Linked DNA regions of Homo sapiens: region 1 is linked to region 2. The links come from fine-mapping of genetic effects on gene expression. Tissue or cell type: whole blood. Region 2 holds a variant in brackets; the other region holds the start of a gene. All regions are shown on one strand. Distances are from middle to middle. Region 1 holds the start of GTF2E2 (general transcription factor IIE subunit 2). Region 2 overlaps GTF2E2 (general transcription factor IIE subunit 2).

Evidence for each region. PIP is the estimated chance that this variant, and not a neighbour inherited with it, causes the effect.
Region 1: GTF2E2 starts here. The variant in region 2 is fine-mapped to the expression of GTF2E2 in whole blood (INTERVAL, PIP above 0.99).

What each region holds. Positions count from the first base shown.
Region 1 is chr8:30,652,308-30,664,845 of GRCh38, forward strand. It overlaps GTF2E2 (general transcription factor IIE subunit 2), which reads right to left and starts at 5,929. Exons shown (of 8, transcript NM_002095.6): 1 at 5,666-5,929; 2 at 1,126-1,295. The coding sequence starts at 1,291. RefSeq lists enhancers at 4,458-5,129, 5,801-6,472 and silencers at 5,514-5,603, 5,614-6,023.
Region 2 is chr8:30,579,866-30,592,403 of GRCh38, forward strand. It overlaps GTF2E2 (general transcription factor IIE subunit 2), which reads right to left. Exons shown (of 8, transcript NM_002095.6): 7 at 416-531. Among named protein-coding and RNA genes, the nearest start is that of SMIM18, 52 kb to the right of the region's middle. The variant G/A (reference allele first, on the strand shown) is at 6,853.

The DNA.
Region 1 (12,538 bases), 72 kb after region 2:
TGCAAATGTATACCAGATCAAAGAATGGTAGCCAGAATATATGAAGAATTATTAAATCAATAGAGAGAGGAAATATACCTCAGTTTTTTTTATGGGCAAAAAAAAATTGAATAGACATTTCACCAAGGAATACACATGGTCAATAAGCACATGAAACAATGTTCAACATCATTACTCATTAAGGAAATGCGTATTAAAGCCACAATGATAGAACTTCACAACTATAGAAATAGCTATGATTAAAAAAAAAAAAACAGAATTTCAAGCGTTAGCAAGGATGAGAAAAAACTAGAACCCTGATACATTGCTGGAGGAAATATAAAATGGTACAGCTATTTTAGCAGTTTCTTAACAAGTTAAATATAAATTTGACATATGACCCAGAAATCTACTTCTAGGTCTCTATCCAAAAGAGATAAAAAGATATGTCTACACAAAGACTTGTACATGAATATTCATACCAACACTATTCAAAACAGCCAAAAAGTGAAAATAATCCAAATAACCGTTTATTGGTGAATGGATAAACAAACTGTGGTACATATATCCATACTATGGAATACGCTTTACCAATAAAAATGGAATGAAGTACTGATGCATACTACATGGATGGAACTCAAAAATATGCCAAGTGAAAAAAACAACACACAAAAGACCACTTACTGTACAATTTCATTTATAGGAAATATCCAGAAAAGGCAAATATACAGAGCCAGAAAGCAGATTATTGGTTTTCCGGGGCAGGGATGGGAAAAGTCACTGCAAATGGGCACATCAGATCTGCTGGGGGTGATGGAAATGTTCTAAAATTGGACTGTAATAACAGCTGCAAAATTCTGTAAATTTACCAAACATCTTTGAACTGTAAACTTAAAATGAATGAACTGTATGGTATGTAAATTAAACCTAAATAAAGTTTTTTTAAAGAGGTAATAACCTAAATTTTAACTACAGCACAAGACTATTAACATCCTAAGAGCTTAAATTCTCTTGTCCCATCCTTTATATTCAACAAAGTGCCTATCAACATGAGTGCTGAACTGAAAAATGAACTAGCCATAACTAAACGGTTTCCTCCTGAATAATCTGAATAAAAACCAAACAGTCCTAAACAATTTTACTAACCAGAATTTTGTTTAGAGCCTGACGATCCTCCATGTTCTACCTTTGTTTTCTTCTTCTTTGACGATGATGATGATGACTCAGAAGATGCTGAACGTTTTTCTACTACAGGAGTAGAAAGAGCTCGTTTTTTGAACAGCTCCCTTTCTCTCAACAGGCTTGGATCCATAATGCTACAAAGAAAAAATAAGTGTCTTTAATACAAATTCAAGTCACTCAAACCTGCACTCCAAATCCACAGATCTCAACAAGTTACTTCCCAAACAAAATTACCTTTTATTATTAGTTCTCTAGCACTTGCATTTATTCACTTATTCAAGTACTCAAGAAATATTTCATTAGCGCTTATTACACGCCAAGCACTGTACTAGCCATTATAGGAAAAAAAGAGGCCAGGCATAGTGGCTGAAGCACTTTGGGAAGCCGAGGTGGGCAGACTGCCTGAGCCCAGGAGTTGGAGACCAGCCTGGACAACATGGTAATACCTCCTGTCTACAAAAATACAAAAAATCAGGCAGGCATGGTGATGTGTGCTTACAGTCCCAGCTACTCGGGAGGCGGAAGTGGGAGGATCACTTCAGCCTGGAAGGTCAAGGCTGCAGTGAGCTGTGATAATGCCACTGCACTCTAGCCTGGGTGACAGACCAAGACCCTTGTTCAAAAAAAAAAAAAAAAAAGAAAGAAAGAAAAGAAACAGAATTATTCCCTAAAGTTCCAGAACTGTGCTGTCCAATATATTAGCCACTAGCCACATGTGCCTATTAAACATGTGAAATGTGGCTAGTTAAAATTGAGATGGACTTTCAAGTGTAAAAACCCACAAGATTTCAAAGATTTAGTATAAAGAAAAAAACTATTTAATTACTAACGAGATATTTTACATTAATTACATGTTGAAGTGATACTATTTTGAATATACTGGGTTAAATAAAATGTTAAAATTAATTTCACCAATTTTTCTTTTAAAATATGGCTATTAAAAAAAAATTAAGAGACAGTGTCTCACTGTGTTGCCCAGGCTGGAGTACAGTGGTGTGATCATAGCTCAATGTAGCCTTGAACTCCTGGGCTCAAGCAATCCTCCCACCTCAGCCTCCTGACTAGCTAGTACTACAGGTACACGCCACCACACACAGTTAATTTTTTTAAAAACTTTTTAGAGACAAGGTCTTGCTATGTTGCCCAGGCTGGTCTTGAACTCCTGGCCTCAAGCAATCCTCCTACCTCAGTCTCCCAAAGCACTAGGATTACAAACATGAGCCACTGCACCCAGCCTAGAATATTTTTAATTACACGTGTGGCTCACACTTCCCACTCCCATTATATTTCTATTGGACAACACTGCTGTAGAAACATGAGGACTACAGGGCAGAAATTAGAAGAAGGTGGATTTAGGCTCACTGCAAAAAAAGAGAACCATCAGAACTGCTTATACATAAAATGGCATATTTTTACAACTGGTGAACTCTCAATTATTAAGTGATGAAGAGGCTGAATTATTATACTATTTGTTAGAAATGTCTACAGAGAGCCGGGCACAGTGGCTCATGTCTGTAATCCCAGCACTTTGGGAGGCTGAGAGACCAGCCTGGGCAACATAGTGAAACCCTATCTCTACGAAATTAGCCAGTCATAGTGACACATACGTGTAGTCCGGGCTACTCAGAACGCTGAGACACGAGAACTGTTTGAGTCCAGCAGAGGTTGCAGTAAGCTGAGATCCCGCCACTGCCCTCCAGCCTGGGGGATACAGCAAAACTCTGTCTCAAAAAAAAAAAAAAAGTCTACAGAAAATTTCCAATTTGGAGGGAGGTGGTTTGAGGCAACTTCTATGTTGTGGTTGTTGTTTGTCTAGTTCTAAAATTACAACTCAAAGCAATTTCACTACAACCAGGGAAGCTACAGGTCAACCAACAAGAATTCTAAACACACCTCTCTTCTGAACTCTGCTAGAACCCTACAGAGGGTCTATGAAGACCTCAAGCTGACTATATAAATGAATTTGACACTGTTAAGACTAGTGTCAGCTGGGAGGAAAAAGACTCATACTTTGAAAGCTTTTAAGCACAGATAGCTCAATAAATATTTGTTAAATGAACAACACATGGAACATCATCTTTAAATTGCTCTGGTCCCATTATTACTGGTTTCACAAGCCTTTATTAAATATCTTGTTTGTGAGGCACTGTGCTCTAAGCTTTGAAAGGTTACGGAAGATAAATCCTTGTCTACATGCTGCTTAGATTTGAGAAAATGGAAGCATTGAGCTAAAAATTTTAAATATAAGCATTGATAAGAAATAATCAGACTGAATTTCAATTAAGGCGTGAACAATCACTGGACGGTGAATCAAAAACCTGCCTTCTCTCAGTTTCAATTTTTTTTTCTTTTTTTTTGAGACAGAGTCTCGCTCTGCCGCCCAGGCTGGCAGAGTGCAGTGGTGCAATCTCGGCTCAATGCAACCTCCGCCTCCTGGGCTCAAGCGATTCTCCTGGCTCAGCCTCCCGAGTAGCTGGGACTACAGGCGCGCAGCACCACGCCCCGCCAATGTCTGTATTTTTAGTAGAGACGGGGTTCATTCACCATGTTGGCCAAGCTGATCTTGAACTCCTGACCTCAAGTGATCCGCCCACCTCAGCCTCCCAAAGTGCTTAGATTACAGGCGTGAGTCACCGCACCCGGCCTCAGTTTCAATTCCTAAAGCCACCTGGCTAGGCAACCCACAAGGCCTCTACATTCAATTTCATAAGTGAAATGAGGACGCTATGAAAGCTGTCCACATCCAGCCCAATTGTAAGAATGAGAAAATGTGTATGTTATTTTTTAAACAGTAAAGTCATAAAAACGTGTTATTTCAGTATTACTATTTTGAGTTGGATCTGAAAGAAGGGAATGATTTACCGGGCTGAGGAAAGTAGGAGACAGCCTTGGGAGGAGGGAAAGCGTGGGGCCAAGAAGAAGAAAGGAGAATTGTCAAGTGAGAAGGTGGGAGCAAAAAGTAAATTTCTAGAACAGGAAACATTTGTGTCTTATTTCACGTTGCAAAGGCAGGACCTCAATCTGGACTTTAAAAAAATTACTCTAAAAGATTTAAATAGGCCGGGCGCAGCGGCTCACGCCTGTAATCCCAGCACTTTGGGAGGCCGAGGAGGGCGGATCACGAGGTCAGGAGTTCTAGACGAGTCTGGCCAACATGGTGAAACTCCGTCTCCATTAAAAATTTAAAAAATGTGCAGGGTGTCGTTGCGGGTGCCTGTAATCCCAACTACTTGGGAGGCTGAGGCAGGAGAATCGCTTGAACCAGGGACGTGGAGCTTGCAGTAAGCCAAGATCGCGCCACTGCACTCCAGCCCGGGCGACAGTGCGAGACTCCGTCTCAGAAAAAAAAAAAAAAAAAAGTAAATAAAGCCGTACAGTTTACAACAAACTAAATGCTTACAGTATTTGACCCTCGCAACTCTAGGAGCAAACAGGTATTAGTGTTATTCCTATTTTAATACGTGAAATCTGAAGTGAAGCTGTCTGGTTAAGGTCGCACAGATGGAAGAGCCAGGGCCAGGAACCAAACCTCCTGACTCCTAACTCAAGTGCTCCTTACACCAGACCTGGAACGCTGGTAAAGGCCTTTAAAACAAAGGCCACCTGTGAGGTTCGGGAACGTTCAAAGGCATCTAGAGCAGAAAGCTTCGCAATGTCTGTCTTTCACCATCACGTGCTCCGCCTAACTTTTCCTCCTTTTTCAAAGACTACCCAATATGTGTACTAAGTTTTAGATCTCTGGACCCCCCTATGGAGTAAACAGGCTACATCACCATGTCCATTTTACAATTAAACAAAACCACAACTCAAGGAGTTGGCTGGTTCCTCCGTGGGCAGACACGGAAAACCCAAAAATTAAACTGAAATCTGCCTCCAAGCCCACGATTCTTGCCACCATTCGACCTCTTTCAACCTTACTACTTCCCCTCTCTTTCACTTTTACCCAGCCTCGTTAGTGTCCCTGGCACCTCAGGACCCGGCTATGAAAAGCAGGCTGCTTCGCCCTTAAATGACGGAAGTGGGGAGGTGGGCGAAAAGGGGGCCGCAGCGTTGTTTAGACTGCAGAAATCAACTACTATCGTTAAAGTTTAGGGATCATCACAAACCAAATCTCCAAAAGGTAGCCTAGAAAGCAGTCCGCGTATGAGCATCATTTTAAATCACAGTCTTGAGCTGGCTGGACCCCGCGGCTGCTCAAACTCCACACACGGTTCGCTTGGCTACCGCGCCCGTGAACTTGGAGGCTTGGAAGAGGCACAGTCAGGCGGCAGACCGCGAATTTTCCCTCTTTCCAACCCAAAAGTTTGCTCAATGAACCTCTGGCCTAAAGACAATGCTCCGGGGAACGGTTCGCGTGCTGGGTGTTTCGCTTCGAGAACGGCGGTCCCAGCTTCCCGTGAGGTGGAGGTCACGCTCAGCCTCCCGGGAGGCGGCGGCGCGCCTGCGTCCCAGGGAACAGCAAGCCGGGGCTCTGCGCCCCACACCCGGCGGCCGCAGCCCCTACCTGAGTGAGAAGGGCAGCCTCGCACGACTCGCCGCCCCCTTCCTGCGCCTCCGCCTCGGCCGGCCGCCCACGCCGGCACTGCACCCTCTTCCTGCTTCTCGTCAGCGCCCCCGCCTGCCCGCACGCACGCCCAGCGCTGACCCGCCAGGTCGGGGTCTCACCACTGGCGGTGGCGGCGGCGGCGGCGGCAGCGGCGGTAGCTGAGGCGGCGACTGGACCCGGGACTCCGCCCGCCACTTCCCGATCGGGTGCTAGGAGCTCAGTCCCGGCAGCCACCGCGGCGCCAGGGCAGCCAAGCGAGCGCATGCGTCATTGCGTGCCCCGCCTCTGGTGCCGCGGGAGCGGAACTATCCCGCTCTGGCGTCCTGGGGCCTCCATGACAACGAGGGAAGGGCTGGGGTGGGGCCGAGAAGGGGACTGAAGTGGGAGGCGGCGCCACTGAAGATGGAAGGCAGCTTTCTTTATAGACACTTTATTAAAACTGCTACAGCCTGCTCCGGCGTGCGCTGGGATGTGGTGAACCCAGCCGACGACGCTATCTTTCAATGGTTACTTTGTGTTTTTTGTCTTTTTCTTATTAGAGACGTGATCTCACTCGGTCACCCAGGCTGGAGGGCAGTGGCGCGATCTCGGCTCACTGCAACCTCCGCTCCTGGGCTCAAGCCATTCTCCCACCTCAGCCTCCGGAGTAGCTGGGATCACAGGCGAGTGCCACCACGACGGACTATTTTTGGTTATTATTGTTGTTGTTGTTTGTATTAATAGGGTCTCACAATGTTGCCCAGGCTGGTCTCGAACTCCTGAATTCAAGCGATTTGCCCGCCTCGTCTTCCCAAAGTGCTGGGATTACAGGCGTGAGCCACCGCGCCCGGCCTCAACGGTTATTTTGTGAGTTTACCCCAGCGCCACACACCAGCACCTGCACACCGAGAACGCGGTTCCAGCTCTTTTACAAGCGAAGAACAGAGGGCCAGGAAGCTAATTAATAAATGACTTGCTCAAGACAACACAGCTAGCAAAGGCAGCCTGATGTGGAGCACAGCCCAGCCTCTTCCCTCCACCCCTGTGAACTGTCTTAGAAAAGGATTTTGGATTTAGAAGCCAGATAAATGGGTGGAAATAAAGCAGTGGAAAAAATAATTTCATTGCCCGAAACCTGCAGCGTGGCAGGCCTTCCCTCACTCTTATAACCTAAAGCGGCAGTACAGCCAGTGCTCAGCCATTCTGTGGCTGTCGTTGAATTACTGGTTACTCTTCAAGTTACTGAAACTGTGGCTCAGTTTTCTCATCGGGGAAATGGGGATAATCATTGTACTACTACAATGAGTTACTTGCATTGGACTGTGGTGAAAATTAAGTGAGAAAATACCTAAAATTTTATTCAAAACTTGGAAAAAAGTCAAAAGATAATATTTTGTGACTTTTATTAGTTTCATTCTAGAGAATTTTGTAATAAGCCTACTTGATCATCTGACACCCACAGGAAATGTAACTTTGTTTGAATAACAATTGATTAGGGCCCAGAAGATTTACAAAAGGATGAAATCAAACATCAATTGGTAGGAAACTGATGAGGTGTTAGGGGAAAAAGGGGCAGGGAATTCAGTGTGTATATAGATAGATAGATAGATAGATAGATAGATAGATAGATAGATAGATAGATAAAATTCCAAAGGTTAAGGTTGCATTTTTCTGAGAAAAATTAACCGGTTTTGTATCAACTGAGCAGTTTTATTTCAGCATTCCTTTCCCCAACGATTATATAAATATCATTTTTCAGAACTGGTAGAAATCCGTTTTATGATTCTGCTGGCTCCCTTATTAATGAGTGAGAGACTTATACATATGGACAATGGCTAAACCGCATATGATAATAACACTCTAACTCACATAAGCCAAACCATAACCTCTACAGCAATCAGCTCAAAATGGTCAGAATTTTCTCAAGAAGGCTGCCAACTTTTCTATTTTAACCTCTCTGTCCTCAGACACCAGTATCAGCCAGAGAAAGCCAAATATTCTTCCCAAACCAATCCTGTTAAGTTTCCTGCTTCAAGTTAGACAACTTCCAGCTTCCCCTGCCAACATCCCTAAATCAGAACACATCAGAAGCATCCCTTTTTTCCTCCACTGTAAAGTCTCCCCTCTTCCCGATTGCTTTTGAGTCTCTGCCAAACTCAAGTGTGGTCGCTGCCCCTATTGCTATAGCAAGCTCTGAATAGTCTCTGTTCTCACTTGGCAGGTCTACATTTCTTGCGTTAAATAAAACTTTGACACATATTCACTATCTCTTCCCTTGAGACTTAGAAATCTAACAATTAGAGAATCTTTACAGAATTAAATCTTTCACAAAGAAGGTGCTCAATAAACGCTTACAGTGAGTAATTTCATGTCAATATCTTGACTCATTTCAGCCAGTTGAAACAGCTAAGCTACTAATAATATCAGAATGTACTATCTATAATCCAGACTCTCAAATCTCAATTGTGTCCCCTTTACCCAGAAGTTAGCTCTTGTTATTAATATCATTGAAACCCTCTCATACAAACCCCAGGAAACCTTATTACATTACAAACTCCTGCTTATACTGCCTGTTGCATGTGTCTAGGTCTTAACACTGAAAGCAATGGCTTCATTCATTCTGAGGCAGGAGAATAGGGTCTGGAAGCAGAGAACCTAAGGCCAATTCACGCTGACTCCCTAGAAAGAGCTAAATCAAAAGGAAAACCCTAATTTTCCACACCCAAGTAACAAAAGGACCAGAGGCTGCTCCCTTTGCAACCCCTCACCCCCATTTTTCTGCCTGGCAGATGAAAAATTGAAAGTACCTCTGGCCGGCCGTGGTGGCTCATGCCTGTAATCCCAGCACTTTGGGAGGCCGAGGCAGGCGGATCACTTGAGGTCAGGAGTTCAAGACCAGGCTGGCCAACATGGTGAAACTCCGTCTCTACTAAAAAATACAAAAATTAGTGTGTGGTGGCGGGCACCTGTAATCCCAGCTACTCAGGAGGGTGAGGCAGGAGAATCACTTGAACCGGGGAGTCAGAGGTTGCAGTGAGCCGAGATCGTGCCCCTACACTCCAGCCTGGGTGACAGAGCAAGACTCCATCTCAAAAAAGAAAGCAAAAAACCTCTAACAGAGAGCCAAACCCCATCACTGCACACACACACACACACTCTCTCTCTCTCTCTCACACACACACACACACACACACACACATATGTAGACTTTCCCCAGGTAGTTATTGGCCAGGATGGAGTCACATACCTCATCTAAACCAATCAATCCCCATGAAAGGGAAAGAAACTACCGTGACAACCTGAAACAAATTTTGATTCACCTTTCTGGAGATGGGGAGGGAGTAGCCTACCTCGAACACATGAGTGAGCAAAGAGTGAACTCACATCTTTAAAAAGTTGGGACCAAACTAGCTTCTTACCTTGCAGAAACAAATAAGAAGTCGTTCCATAATTCAAACTTTCTTTCAAGTTTTCTCTTTGATAACCGTCATATCTTAGCATGCAATACTAGGTGTTTATGATCAACTTCCATAATAATTATCATAATAAAGAAAATAATTTCTCATAACATTTATGTATTTCATGATTTTTGCTACATCAGTGTATTAGAGTTTTCCAGAGAAATAGCAAATAGGATATGTGTGTGTGCGTGTGTGTAGACAGAAGGAGAGAGAGACCGAGAGAGGAAAAAAAAGAAATAGAGACAGAGTTAGAGAGGGATGTATTTATTTATCATTTAAGACACAGTCTCACTCTGTCACCCAGACTGGAGTGCAATAGCACGTTCTCAGCTCTCTGCAACCTCCACCTCACAGGTTCAAGCAATTCTCCTGTCTCAGCCTCCTGAGTAGCTGGAATTACAGGTGCGCACTACCACACCTGGCTAATTTTTGTATTTTTAGTAGAGACGGGGTTTCACCATGTTGGCCAGGCTGGTCTTGAACTCCTGACCTCAAGTGATCTGCCTGCCTTGGCCTCCCAAAGTGCTGCAATTACAGGCGTGAGCCACTGCGCCCAGCCAGAGAGGGATTTCTCATGTCATTATGGAGGCTGACAAGTCCCAAGATGTGCAGCCAACTTGGAGGCACAGATGACTGAAGATGTCCTTCCAGTTCAAAGCCATGCAGGCTCAAAACAGGAAGAGCCACTGTTTCAGTTCTAGTTCAAAGGCAGAAAATAAACTGCTATCCTAGCTCTAGACAGTCATGCAGGAGGAGCATTCCTCTTATTCACGGGAGGGTCGGCTTTTCTGTCCCATTCAGGCATTCAACTGATTGGATGGGGCCTTGCCACATTAGGGAGGGGAATCTGCTTGATACATCTGCCAGTTTAAATGTTCATTTTGGCCAGTTGCAGTAGCTCACACCTGTAATCTCAGCACTTTGGGAGGCTGAGGCGGGTGGATCACCTGAGGTCAGGAGTTTGAGATCAGCCTGGTCAACATGGTGAAACCCCATCTCTACTAATAATGCAAAAATTAGCTGGCTGTGGTGGCGGGTACCTATACTCCCAGCTGCTCGGGTGGCTGAGGCAGGAGAATCACTTGAACCCAGGAGGCAGAGGTTGCAGTGAGCCGAGATTGCACCACTGCACTCCAGCCTGGGTGACAGAGTGAAACTGAGTCTCAAAAAATAAATTAAATAAATAAATGTTCATTTCATCCAGAAACACCCGCACAGACACACCAAGAATACTGCTTGACCAACTGTCTGGGAACCCTGTGGCTCAGTCAAGTTGACAAGTAAACTTAACCATGGCAACTTGGCACCCAGACACATCTCCTTAAACCATACTTAATAACCAAATAAAGACAATAACACGGTCATAATTCCACCTACCATGATACCACTATCCTGCATACAAACAAAAACACACTAACCCCTTTCCCAGAAGAGAAGGTAAAGTCCTTGCGTCATGTTTTCTCTTTGATATGCCATAACTTTTTTTTACTTGTATAAATTTGAGGGGTACGGCCGGGCGCGGTGGCTCATGCCTGTAGTCCCAGCACTTTGGGGAGGCTGAGGTGGGCGGATGACAAGGTCAGGAGATCGAGACCATCCTGGCTAACACGGTGAAACCCCGTCTCTACTAAAAATACAAGAAATTAGCCAGGTGTGGTGGCGGGCACCTGTAGTCCCAGCTACTCAGGAGGCTAAGGCAGGAGAATGGCGTGAACCCCGGAGGCGGAGCTTGCAGTGAGCCGAGATCGCGCCACTGCACTCCATCCTGGGCGACAGAGCAAGACTCCGTCTCAAAAAAAAAAAGTAAGGGGTACAAATACAGTTTTGTCACATGGATATTTTGCATAGCGGGGAAGTCTGGGCTTTTGGGTAAGCATCACCCAAACAGTGTACATTGCACCTATTAGGCAATCTCTCATCCCTCATTGCCCTCCCACCCTCCCACCCATTCAAGTTTCAATGCCTGTTCTTTCACACTCTACACACTCCATGTCCATGTGGACACATTATTTAGATCCCATTTATAGATAAGAACACATGGCATTTGACTTTCTGGGTTGTTTCACTTAAGATAATAGCCTTCGGTTCCATCCATGTTGCTGCAAAAGACATGATTTCATTTTTTTTATGGCTGAATAGTATTCTAATACACACACACACATTTTCTTTCTTCTTCTTTTTTTTTTTTTTTTTTTTGAGACGGAGTCTTGCTCCATCACCAGGCTGCAGTGCAGTGGCGTGATCTCGGCTCGCTGCAATCTCCGCCTCTCAGGTTCAAGTGGTTCCTCTGCCTCAGCCTCCCCAATAGCCAGGACTACAAGTGTGCACCACCATGCCCGGCTAATTTTTTGTATTTTAGTAGAGATGGGGTTTCACCATGTTGGCCAGGATTGCCTCGATCTCCCGACCTTGTGATCTGTCCACCTCGGCCTCCCAAAGGGTTGGGATTACAGGCATGAGCCACCACTCGTAGCCTACCACATTTTCTTTATCCAGTCACCCACTGATGGATACTTAGGTTGATTCCATATCCTTGTTTTTGTGTATAGTGCGGTGATAAACATAATGAGTGTAAGTATCTTTTCGATGTAATGCTTTGTTTTTCTTTTGGGAAACCTCATAACTTTTTAAACAATTCTTAAATACTACAATATCAAGTCAATACATCTTAGGTTATATGATACAGGAAAAAGAGAGGGAAGAAAACAAAGATAATTTATACACACACACACACACAATCATGGCAATTACAGTCCTCATTTCTATAACTGGTCACATGGCTCTTTACCTAGGGGAATGACGTCCTTGATGGTGGCACTAATCTCTGCAGTCCCTCCAGGGATGTGGTATCGCTTTTCATTTTCTATTTTTCTAGGTAGAGGCAGTTCTTGTGGCTTCCACTTGGCCTTTGCCACCATAATAGCCCTCACTCCACAGGCCAGGGAAGCACTGGAGATTCTGCCAGCTGCTGAGCATGTCTATTCTGATTACGCATTCCTGAGCTGCAGAAATAACCACAGGATGGGTTCAGGGATCCACTGAGCCCACTATGAGATGGATCAATGCTAAAACTGCATGGATTGGCTGGGTGCGGTGGCTCACGCCTGTAATCCCAGCACTTTGGGAGGCCGAGGCAGATGGATCACCTGAGGTCGGGAGTTTGAGACCAGCCTGGCCAATATGGTGAAACCCTGTCTCCACTAAAAATACAAAAATTAGCTGGGTGTGGTGGCACGTACCACTTGGTCCCTGCCACCCTCAGATTCAACTACTGCCACTGCATTTAGGTTTTCCAATTCAGTGATAGCAGTTCCCTCTCTAATTTCTGACCTACTAAGAACGACAACCACTGAACACTTCAGGAATGCTGGGGCTCCCTTCACAAATTTAT
Region 2 (12,538 bases):
TACTATGGCAGAACCAGGCACCAGGACGGCGAGGCTCACGGAGCAGGGGAGGGCCCCGTTCAAGTCTGAAAGGTTGTGCAGATCAAGGCACAGCATCCCTTTAAGAATAGGGAGAAGGGCTTGTAGCAGCTTAGAGTGGGAGAGTGGGGAACACACAGGCCCTGGAAGGTTCCATATGGCTATACCTCAAGAGCAGGACTGCTTGGGAGGAGCTGGGTGTAGAAAGGCACTCACAGGCCTGGAGCAGCACCGAGGGCGGGTCTGCAGGCCTGCAATACCTCAGATGTGACCTGGGCTGCGGACACTGAGAAACAATGGCGGGGGAACAACTCCCAGCTCTTCAGAGGGCAGAAAGCGGAGCAGGCTAACAGTTCCCAGGGCAGGGGATTAAGCTGCTTTGCTAGAGATTACGCACCACTTTCTTTGGTCCAGATTCCTGCATGGAAGAAATACCCTGTCGCTTCAGATATTCTTCAATTTTCTCCTCGTCCATGGAATCTACAGTGACACTCCTCCACAGTTTCTGAAATTCTGTATCAAACAGACACTAGTTATTTTACAATCCATTTTTACAAACTATAGCATCTTGATCAAAATCCAGGTTTCAGTGTTATCTCCTCTGGATCCAAATGAGCACATCTGATATGTCATCATGAAACAAGTCAGGGCAGAACATCCACATGTGGGACACGGTGCAGGGAAAGGCCTGGAGACAGAACTGCACCCACACAGCCCCGACAGTGGGGCTGTTTCTTGAGGCCAGCAAATGAGGGCTGCCACAATGAAGCCGCCCTGCTTTCCTGGGCCGTCAACACCCTCCTTTAATTCCTCTATTTAGGGCTAACAGCTTATTTCCTGCTCAGCTCCCCTAAGCATGATATACTCATTCCTCTCTCATTGATAATAGAAAATAAGAAACGTGTAGGGAGACGGGAACCGAAGTTTCACATGGAAATGAGGTTATTCAACAATTTATCTGCAAAAAAGACTTTTGAAATCAAATAACCTGGTAACTGGTGACTAAGGAGGCATGAAAGGGAAAGGGGGGATGGCTGAAATAGAAACACTGTCTCACCTCCTCTCTGTAATACAAGGAGAAAGGCGACAGTCCTGCCTGCAGCTTGTCTTCAGAAACCTGTAGTCCCTCTGCCACATCACTATTTTTGCAACCAAGAGAGACCACAATTGGGAAGCATTCCAAATGAACATTATTTACATCTTACATTCTGCTCCTGAAGACAGGTTCTGATCACTGGTTTCACTTAATTATCAGAAGCTACTTTCAGACACAAAATCCTAAGACTTACACGCTCAGGAACGAAAAAAGGAAAAGCTCTCTGAGCCCCGAGGCTTCACAGAGCCTCACACTCACAACTGCCCCACGCACTGAGGGGATGCACCTTCCCTTCCTTTCTTCCCACCCCAGACCCTCACCCAGCGCCGCCCTCCTTTTCTTCCAGAGCCAAGAACTTCCCACGGTCCGTTTACAAATGATAAATGAAGTAGGCATCTGATACTGTGCTAGGCCAGATTTCTTTCCTTTTCCCCTTTTCCTTCCTTCCCCCTTTCTCTCTCATTTCAGTACACGCTGCATAAAGCAAATGATGCCCACATAGGCAGGACTCTGGTGATACCATGGAAATCGGTTTACTGCCACCTACCCTGAAGCTTTTCATTGCAGGTGACCAATGGCAAAAGTGGCAAAATCTACTACAAAGAATTCAACCTGAGCATAAAGTTATTTAAATCCAAAATGTCTCTAAATAAGATTTTTTAATTTCCATAGATACATTAGGGGTTCTTTCTACTACACACCCACTGAACGTTCATCTGCACACATTATGGACATGACCTAACTGATAACAACTGTGTGCATGATTGTCTCGGCCTCTCTAAGCTCCTTGAGAGCAGGGAGCTCTATTTCCATCTTGTTTCCATGATAGTCGGCGTATTTCCATCTCGTTTCCATGACAGTCGGCACTGTACCTAGCACATGACAGGTCCTCAGTGATTTGACTACTGAATGTATGAAACACCATCACTGTCTACTACAGCCTAGACAAGACTTCAACGATTTGACTACCGAATGTATGAAATACCATCATTGTCTACTACACCCTAGACAAGACAGACTGTTTTCTTTTTTTAAAATTTATTTATTTTTGAGACAGGGTCTAGTTCTGTTGCCCAAACTGGAAAGCAGTGGCGCAATCTCAGCTCACTGTAACCTCCACCTCCTGGGCTTAAGCAATCCTCCCACCTCAGCCTCCTGAGGAGCTGGGACCAAGGTACACACCACCATGCCCAGCTAAGTTGTTTCTGGGGGGGTGGGGGGTTGTGTAGAGATGAGGTTTTACCATGTTGCCTAGGCTGGGCTCAAACTCCTGAGCTCAGGCAATCCATCTGCCTTGGCCTCCCGAAGTGCTGGGATTACAGGTGTCGAGCCACCATGTCTGGCCTATATTTTTCTTTTTACATTTTTTAGACTTTTAAAAAATAATTTTACACTAACAAAAGGGTTACAAAATGAGTACACAGAGTTCCTATATGCCCTTTATCCAGCTTCCCCTAATGTTAACACCTTACATAACTGTATAATTATTGAAACTAACATGGACATATTACTATTAATTCATCAACAGGCCTTACTGAAACTTCACAAGTTTGAAGTGAAACTTCAACTTCACCGATGCTCTTTTCTTGGCCCAGGATCCTGCCTGTCACATCTCTTTGGTCTCCTCCATTCTCTAAGTGTGGCCAGTCTTTGTTTCCCCACTGGTCAGTTGTTTTACAGAAACTTCCATTTGGGTTTGTCTAGTATTTCCTCATTACTAGATTGAGGTTATGCAATTCTGGCAAGAACAACACAGTAACGAGCTTGTGCCCTTCTTGGGGCACAGTAGCAAGCTACATAGTGTCAACATGGACCCGGTAAACGCTGACCATCAGGCAAGGTGTTATCTCTCAGGTTTCTCTGTCATGAAGCTATCAGTTTTTCCTTTGTAGTTAATAATTAATGGAGAGATATTTTCAGACTATATAAATACCGTTTCTCATATTATCACTAATTTTATAATAGCATCCATTGGTAGTGCTTACCTACAAAAATGACTACTTGTAAGTAACTACTGACAAATTATTTCCATCATTCCTTCCATATGTACTAATTAGAATTCTACTATAATAGGCTGGGCACGGTGGCTCATGCCTGTAATCCCAGCACTTTGGGAGGCCGAGGAGGGTGGATCATTCAAGGTCAGGAGTTCAAGACCAGCCTGGCCAACATGGTGAAACTGTGTCTCTACTAAAAATACAAAAATTAGCTGGGCATGGCAGTGGGTACCTGTAATCCCAGCTACTCAGAAGGCTGAGGCAGGAAAATCACTTGAACCTGGGAGGCGGAGGGTGCAGTGAGCTGAGACTGTGCCACTGTACTCCAGCCTGGGTAACACAGCGAGACTCCATCTCAAAAAACAAAACATAACAAAAAACACAAAGAGCTGCTCTTCCTTCAGTTCACTGTTTGTTTGTTGAGACAGGGTCTCACTTTGTCACCTAGGCTGGAGTGCAGTGGCACAATCTTGGCTCACTGAAGCCTCAACTTCCTGGGCTCAATCAATCTTCCTCCCTCAGCCTCCCAAGTGGCTGGGACTACAGGCACATACCACCACACCAGGCTAACTTTTGTATTTTTAGTAGAGACAGGGTTTCATCATGTTGCCAAGGCTGGTCTCGAACGTCTAGACTCAAGCGATCCACCTGCCTTGGCCTCCCAAAGTACTGGGATTACCAGCCTGAGCCACTGTGCCCAACCTCCAACTTGTTTTTCAATTATTTAATTTAGCAGACTCATGGATATTACTGTACAGATTTATATCTACATATTTATTACACAGATAATCCATGACGATCAGTATTTATTTATTTATTTATTTTATTTATTTATTTTATTTATTTTGAGATGGAGTCTCGCACTGTCACCCAGGCTGGAGTGCAGTGGTGCGATCTCGGCTCACTGCAAGCTCCACCTCCCGGGTTCACGCCATTCTCCTGTCTCAGCCTCCCGAGTAGCTGGGACTACAGGCGCCAGCCACCACGCCCAGTTAACTTTTTGTATTTTTTAGTAGAGACAGGGTTTCACCGTGTTATCCAGGATGGTCTCGATCTCCTGATCTTGTGATCTGCCCGCCTCAGCCTCCCAAAGTGCTGGGATTACAGGCGTGAGCCACCGTGCCCAGCCGACGATCAGTATTTATTTTGTGGTTCAAACATCCCAGCTCTAATCACTAAGATTTCCTTCATGTTGGTTCCTATGTCCCTGACTTGCTTCCCTTTTTTTTTTTTTCCTCCAGTTTTTCTTCTTTCTCTCACTTTCTGGCGGTACTAAAAGATGTTCCAGGCTCATCTTGTATTTCCCCTCATTTGGAATCAATGATTTCTTCAAGGATTCCTGACTTGTTTTATTATAGAATGGTATTTAAAAACCAAGATCTACATATTTTGGGTTTTTAAAAATAGCAATCTCTTTTTTGAAAACAAAATGATCAAGGGACATCAAATTTAAAGGCAGACACTTTATTATGGCAGAAGACAGCCAAGTATCATGAAAGTCAGGCACACTCTAAACCGTAAGGGTAAATAAAATCAGAACTGATTTAGAAATCTACTCTCTTAGCAGAAAAGAGGAGAAAACAGACTAGAATTTAAAAGCTCAGATTTGATCCTTTCATTTCAAAAGACCCTTCCTTGTCCCACATGAGTTAAGAATAAAAAACTGTGTAACTGCCATAGAAGGGAAGAAAATGAGCCAACTTACCAATGAGGCTTTGCTTAAAATTCCCAAATAACGCACTCACATTTTGTCTGTGCTTAGCCCTTTCCCGTAAATGCAAAAGTAGCACAACAGTGTGGTGCAGGCCTCAGAGCCAGATGGCCTGGCTGTGACCTCAGTTACCACATTTCCTGCACAAAGTGGTGCAAACATCTTAATTTTTCTGCCTCCATTTCTTCATCTGTAAAGTGAGGATAATAATAATACCTGCCTCGCCGAGCGTGGTGGCTCTGTAATCCAAGCACTTTAGGAGGCCAAGGCAGGCGGATCACCTGAGGTCGGGAGTTCGAGACCAGCCTGACCAACATGGAGAAACCCCATCTCTATTAAAAATACAAAATTAGCCAGGCGTGGTGGCACATGCCTGTAGTCCCAGCTACTTGGGAGGCTGAGGAAGGAGAATCGCTTGAGTCCGGAAGGCAGAGGTTGCGGTGAGCCGAGATCACGCCATTGCACTCCAGCCTGGGCAACAAGAGCGAAACTCCGTCTCAATAATAATAATAACGATAATAGTAATAATAATACCTGCCTCATAGAATAGTGAGGATTAGAGGAGTTAATAAAGCACCGAAAATAATGCCTGCAAATGAAACAGCATTATCTACACCTATTACTGTTATCATCACCATCTAACACCCATCATAATTTTCTGTGTGCTGGTGTCTTTAATAAAGGCAATATAAAACATTTAAGAAGAGGATCAGCTACTAGACACAAAGTGATCTCATTTATGTAAAGCAGAAGAAACAAAACTTCTAAAAATTTCTTAAAAAGCAAAAACACATACATATTAAATACATCGTAAAGATGTGGAAAATACACACCAATAGGTATCCCCAGAGAAAAGAATACAGTTTGCTTAGAGAATTTTCATTTTTTTGTTCTGCAGACTTGACAAAGGTTTTATTAATAATATGCAGAAATATTTGTGTATTGCTAGTGTAAAATTTTAAAGAAATAACCTAAAAATAAGGAGGATCATACTTACTAATAATTCACGCACTTGCCACTTTTTCTCAGCCCCACATTAGGCTATGGTGTTCTAGTGTTAGCATTAAGGTACATCTTTGCCCTTTAAAAAAAAAAAAAAAAAAAAAAAAAAAAAAGGCCAGGCCCAGTGGCTCATGCCTGTAATTCCAGAGCTTAGGGAGATGGAGGTGGGAGGACTGCTTGAACCCAGGAGCTCAAGGCCAGCCTGGGCAATATATAGAGACACCATCTCAAAAATTTAAAAAACAAGCCGGGCATGGTGGTGTTCACTTGTAGTCCCAGCTACTCAGGAGACTGAGGTGGGAAGAGAGCTTGAACCCAGTTTGACGTTGTGAGCTACAATTGTGCCACTGCACTCCAGCCTGGGAGACAAAGAGAGACCCTGTCTCTAAAACAACAACAACAACAAAACCAAATGCAGAATCTCAACGAGCAACACGCCATGCCTTCCTCCCTTTTCCTTTAACAACACGTGTTATTAACGTGACTTTTTATCCTCAAAAGTGTCATTATATCCACTTTGCAGTTCCAGAAAATAGGACATTTCTCAATTTACCTCATCTTCTAGTGATCTTACATTTGAGACCTATCAAAATAATTTCTTGTGTGCTACACAGAAAAATGCACCCCCACCCAAGATGTCCACAACGTAATCCCCAGAACCTGTGAATACGTTACCATAAAAGAGACTTTGGTGACTAAGAATCTTGAGATGAGGAGATCTCAAGATTTGGATTCTGAATTGGAAGAATTAATACTGTTAAAATGTCCATACTATCCAAAGTGATCCACAGATTCAATGCAATCCCTATAAAAATTCCAATGTCATTTTTCACATAAATAGAAAAAATAATTCTAAAAGTCTAATGGAAACACACAAAAAAACTGAATAGCCAAGGCAATCTTGAGCGAAACAAACAAAACTAGAGGTACCACACTACTTCAAACTATATTACAATGCTACGGTAATCAAAACAGCATGGGACTGGCATAAACAAAAGCCCAGTAATGAACCCATGCATTTACAATCC[G/A]CTGATCTTTGACAAAGGTGCCAAGAACACACAATGGGAAAAGGACAGTCTCTTCAATAAAGGGTGTCGGGAAAACTGAATATCCACATGCAGGAGAATGAAATGAGGCCACTGTCTCACACCATATAGAAAAATCAACTCAAAATGGATTGAAGACTTAAACATAAGACCTGAACCTGTGAAAATACTACAAGAAAACACAGGGAAAACAACACAACACTGGTCAGGGCAATCATTTTTTGGATTTGACCCCAAAAGTTCAGGCAACAAAAGCAAACATAGACAACTGGGATTACAACAAACCAAAAAGCTGCAGCATGGCAAAGTAAACAGACTGAAGAGACAACCTACAAACTGGGAGAATATATTTGCAAGCAATACATCTAATATGGGTTTAATATACAAAATATAGGGCAGGTGCCACAACTCATGCCTATAATCCCAGCACTTTGGGAGGGCGAGGCAGGAAGATTGCTTGAGCCTAGGAGTTTGAGACCAGCCTGGGCAATATAGTGAGACCTCGTCTCTACAAAAAATGTTTTAAGATTAGCCAAGTTTGGCAGTACATATCTGCAGTCCCAGCTACTTAGGAGGCTAAGATGACAGGATCACTTCAGCCTGGGAGGTGGAGGCTGCAGTTAGCTGAGATCATGCCGCTGCATTACAATCTGGGCAACAAAATGAGACGCTGCCTCTAAAAAAGAAAAAAAAATTATATATATTTTCCATATATATGGAACTCAAAATAATAGCAAAAAAAAAAAAATAACCTGATTTAAAAATTGGCAAAAGATCTGAATATTGTCTGAAAATTCAGAAATCCTGAAATGTCAGAAATATTCAGACATTTCTCAAAAGAAGATATACAAATGAGGCCAGGCACAGTGGCTCATGCCTATAATCCCAGCACTTTGGGAGGCCAAGGCATGTGGATCACCTAAGGTCAGGAGTTCGAGACCAGCCTGGCCACCATGGCAAAACCCCATCTCTACTAAAAATACAAACTCAGCTGGGCATGGTGGCGGGCACCTGTAATTCCAGCTACTTGGGAGGCTGAGGCAGGAGAATTGCTTGAACCCAAGATACGGAGGTTGCAATGAGCCAAGACCGCACCACTGCACTCCAGCCTGGGCAACAGAGCAAGACTCCGTCTTAAAAAAAAAAAAAAAAAAAAAACCACACAAATGACCAACAGATATATTGCTCATCATTGCTAATCATTAGGGAAATACAAATCAAAACCACAATGATTTCCAACTGGGGCAGAGACTTAAAGGAAAAAGGAGAAAGAGAAGTACAATGAGCCATCACTTCACACCTGTGAGAATGGTTATCCTCAAAAAGAGGAAAGATAACATGCACTGATGAGGATGTAGCAGAGGGAACACCTGTACACTGTTGGTGGAAATGTAAATTGGTGTAGCCATTATGGAAAACTGTATGGAGTCCCCCCAGAAAACTAATAACTAGATTATCATTTGATCCAGCAATCCCACTTCTGGATATTTATTCTAAGGACTTGAACTTAGTATGTTGAGGAGATGCTTGCACTCCCATGTTCACTGCAGCATTACTTACAACAGTCGAGATAAAGACTCAGTCTAAGTGTCTATCAACAGATGAACGGATAACAAAAATATAATATATATACACACAATGGAATTCTATTAGCCTTAAAAAAGAAAGGAATTCTGTCATTTGCAACATGAATAAACCTGGAGGACATTGTTAAATGAAATAAGCCAGGCACCGAATGACAAAAACCGCATGTTTTCACCTCTACGTGGAATCTAAAACAATCAGAACTCAACAGAAGCAGAGAGTAGAATGATGGCTACTAGAGGCTAGGAGAAGGGGAATGAGGAGGTGTTGGTCCAAAGAAAAAGGAATCTTGAAAGGCAGGTTATCCTGGATTATTTGAGCAGACCTAATGTAATCACAAGGGTCCTTATAAAGGAAAGAGGCAGGCAAGAGAGCCTGAGTCAAGGTGGAAGCAGAGGTCAGAGTGATGCTGGGACACAAGCCAAGAAATTCGGGTAGCCTCTGGAAGCTGAAAAGGCAAGAAAACGAATTCTTCCCATGAGTATCCAGAAGTGCAGCCCTTTTTACCCATTTAAGACTTCTGACCTCCAGAACAGTAAGATAATACGTTTGTGTTGTTTTAAGCCATGAAGTTTGTAGTAACATCTTACAGCAGCAACAGGAAACTAATACACACTGCTTGAAAATTTTCTTTTTAAAAAAGTACTGGCCTGGCCGGGCACAGTGGCTCACGCCTGTAATCCCAGCACTTTTGGAGGCTGAGGGAGGCGGATCACGAGGTCAGGAGTTTGAGACCAGCCTGACCAACATGGTGAAACCCCATCTCTACTAAAAATGCAAAAAAAAAATTATCCGGGCGTGGTGGCACACGCCTGTAATCACAGCTACTCAGGAGGCTGAGGCAGGAGAATCACTTGAATCCAGGAAGCAGAGGTTGCAGTAACCAAGATCGCACTACTGCACTCAAGCCTGCTGACAAAGCGAGACTCCACCTCAAAAAAAAGAAAAAAGTATTGGCATGGTGCAATGACTCACACCTGTAATCCCAGTACTTTGGGAGGCCAAGGTGGGAGGATCACTTGAAGCCAGAAGTTCAAGACCAGTCTGGGCAAAAGCGAGACCTCCATCTCTACCAAAATTTTTAAAATAATAAATTGGCCAGACATGGAGGCATATGCCTGTAGTCCCAGCTAAGAGACTGAGGTGGGAGGATGGCTTGAGTCCAGGGGAGTTCAAGGCTGCAGTGACCTATGACTGTGCCATTACATTCCAGCCTGAGCAACAGAGCAAGACGCTGTCTTAAAAATAAAAAATAAATTTTAAGTATAACTTAAGCAGGCAGGATTATAAAGACAAGTGCCACTTCATCCTCAACATTTCAACAAGTATTTCTTGAGAATTCTGTCACTACCACAGTATGACCTGCTATCTGGACATCTGTAAAGAACAGGCATCGTCTGCCCAAATCTGTGCAGCAGAGGCTGGACAGAATGAGAAGAACTTGGCAGCACTTGCTGTTCTTGGTGATCCTGCTGAAATCTACACTGAGCAATTGCACTTTTTACTCGGGATAAACACCAGACACCAAAACAAGAAGGGGAGAAGCCGTGGGGTAACTCTTTACCTTGAAAACTGCTTTACAATGGGAGAAACACCATATTCTTTTGAACAACTACTTTAAATTGTCCTTTTATTTTACTAAGGTATAATTTATGAAAATTAAAATCCTGCACATTTTACTGTACAATTCCTGAAGTTTTGACAAGCATATGGTCATGCTAACACCACCATGATAATGATATAGACAGTTCCACAACCGCAAATCACCCTATGCTCCTCTGCAGTCACTCTCTCCACGGGCAGCCCCTGATCTGTTTCTATGGTTCTGTTTCCCAGGAATATCATAAACATATAAATAAAATCACACAGCATGTCCCTTTCGAATCTGGCTTCCCTCATGAGGCACGATGCCTCTGAGATTCATCCATGTTGTTGGAATGTCAGTCCTTTGTTCCTTTTCATTGCTGAGTTGTATTCCACTCTAAGTATGTGCCACAGTTAAGGGGAAGTTAAGGGACAGTTAAAGGATGTGAGTTGTTTCCAATTGTTGGTGGTTATGAAGAAAGCCAGTATAAATACCCATTAATTTAATGTGAATTTGGGTTAACACCCAAGAGTGGGATGGCTGGGTTATACAGTAGTATATATTACAATGTAGAGATCTATACCTACTATTTAGCTTTCTAAAGGACACTGGACCCACGTCTCACACCATAAACAAAAACTCTAACTCCTAGAGGAAAAACCCCTAACTCCTAGAGGAAAAAACAGAGGTAAATCTTCATGACCTTGGATTAGGCAATGGTTTAGACATGACACCAAAAGCACAAGCAGCAAAAGAAATAAAGATAAAGGACTTGATTGAAATCAAAAACTTTTTTTTTTTTTTGAGACAGAGTTGCACTCTGTCACCCAGGCTGGAGTGCAGTGGCGCAATCTCAGCTCACTACAACCTCACCCTCCCAGGTTCAAGTGATCCTCCTGCCTCAGCCTCCCGAGTAGCTGGGATTACAGATGGGGACCACCATGCCCAGCTGATTTTTGTATTTTTAGTAGAGACAGGGTTTTGCCATGTTGGCCAAGCTGGTCTCGAACTCCTAACCTCGGATGATCCACCTGCCTCGGCCTCTCAAAGTGCTGGGATTACAGGTGTGAGCCACTGCGCCTGGCCCAAAATTAAAAACTTTTATACCTCATAAGACACCATCAAGAAAGTGAAAAGACAACCCACAGAATGGAAAAAAATATCTGTAAAGCATGTATCTCACAATGGCCTTGTATCCAGAATAAAGAATTCTTACAGCTCTGTAATAAAAGCACAAAACAATTTTTTAAATGGACAAAGGATTTCAATACACATTTTGCCAAATGAAATATACAGATGGACCGGATGTGGTGGTTCACACCTATAATTCCAGCACTTTGAAAGGCCACGGCAGGAGGATTACTTGAGGCCAGGAGTTCAAGGTCAGCCTGGGCAACAGAGTAAGACCCTGCCTCTATAAAAAATTAAAATATTACCCAGGTACCGTGGCACACCTGTTGCCCTAGCTACTCAGGAGGCTGAGAAGGGAGGATTGCATGACCCTAAGAGCTTGAGGCTGCAATGAGTTATGATAGCATCACTGCACTCAAGCCCAGGAAACAGAGTGAGACCCTGTTTCTACAGTAAAAAAATAAAATAAAAATAAAATAAAATATAAAATGGCCAATCAGCACATAAAAAGATGTTCAACATCATTAGTCATTAGGGAAATGCAAATCAAAATCACAGTAACACTTCACATCCACCAGAATGGCTAAAATCAGTGTTGGCAAGGGTGTGGGGAAAGCAGAACCTTCCTAAGTTGCTGGTGAGAATGTAAATTAATGTAGCTGCTTTGCAAAATAGTATGACAATTCCTCAAAAAGTTAACCACAGAACTACCATATGATGTAGCAATTCTACTCCTAGGTATATACCTAAGAGAAATGAAAACACATGTCCACACAAAAACTTGTATAGGTATGTTAATAGCAGTATTATTCACAACAGCCAAAAAGTGGAAAAACCCAAATATCCATCAACTGATACATGAAAAGTGTATGGCCATACAATAGAATTTTTTTTTTTACTATAAGCACTTAATGCTCTTTATTTCCCTATAAGCACTGCTATAGCTGCATCCCATGAATTTTGATACACTGTGCTTTCACTTTCATTTAATGCAACAATGTTTTTACCTCCCTGTGATTTCCTCCTTGAACCATAGGTTACTTAAAGGTATTTAATTTCAGGCTGGGTGTGGTGGCTCACATCTGTAATCCTAGCACTCTGGGAAGCTGAGGTAGGCAGATCACTTGAGCCTAGGGGTTCAAGACCAGACTGGGCAACACTGCAAAATCCCATCTCTACAAAAAAATACAAACATTAGCCAGGCATGGTGACACACACCTGTAGTCCTAGCTACTGGGGAGGCTGAGATAGGAGGATCGCCTGTGCCCAGGGAGGTCAAGGCTGCAGTGAGCTGTGATCATGCCACTGCACTCCAGCCTATACAGTGAGACTCTGTCTCAAAAAATACATAAATAAAATAATTTCCAA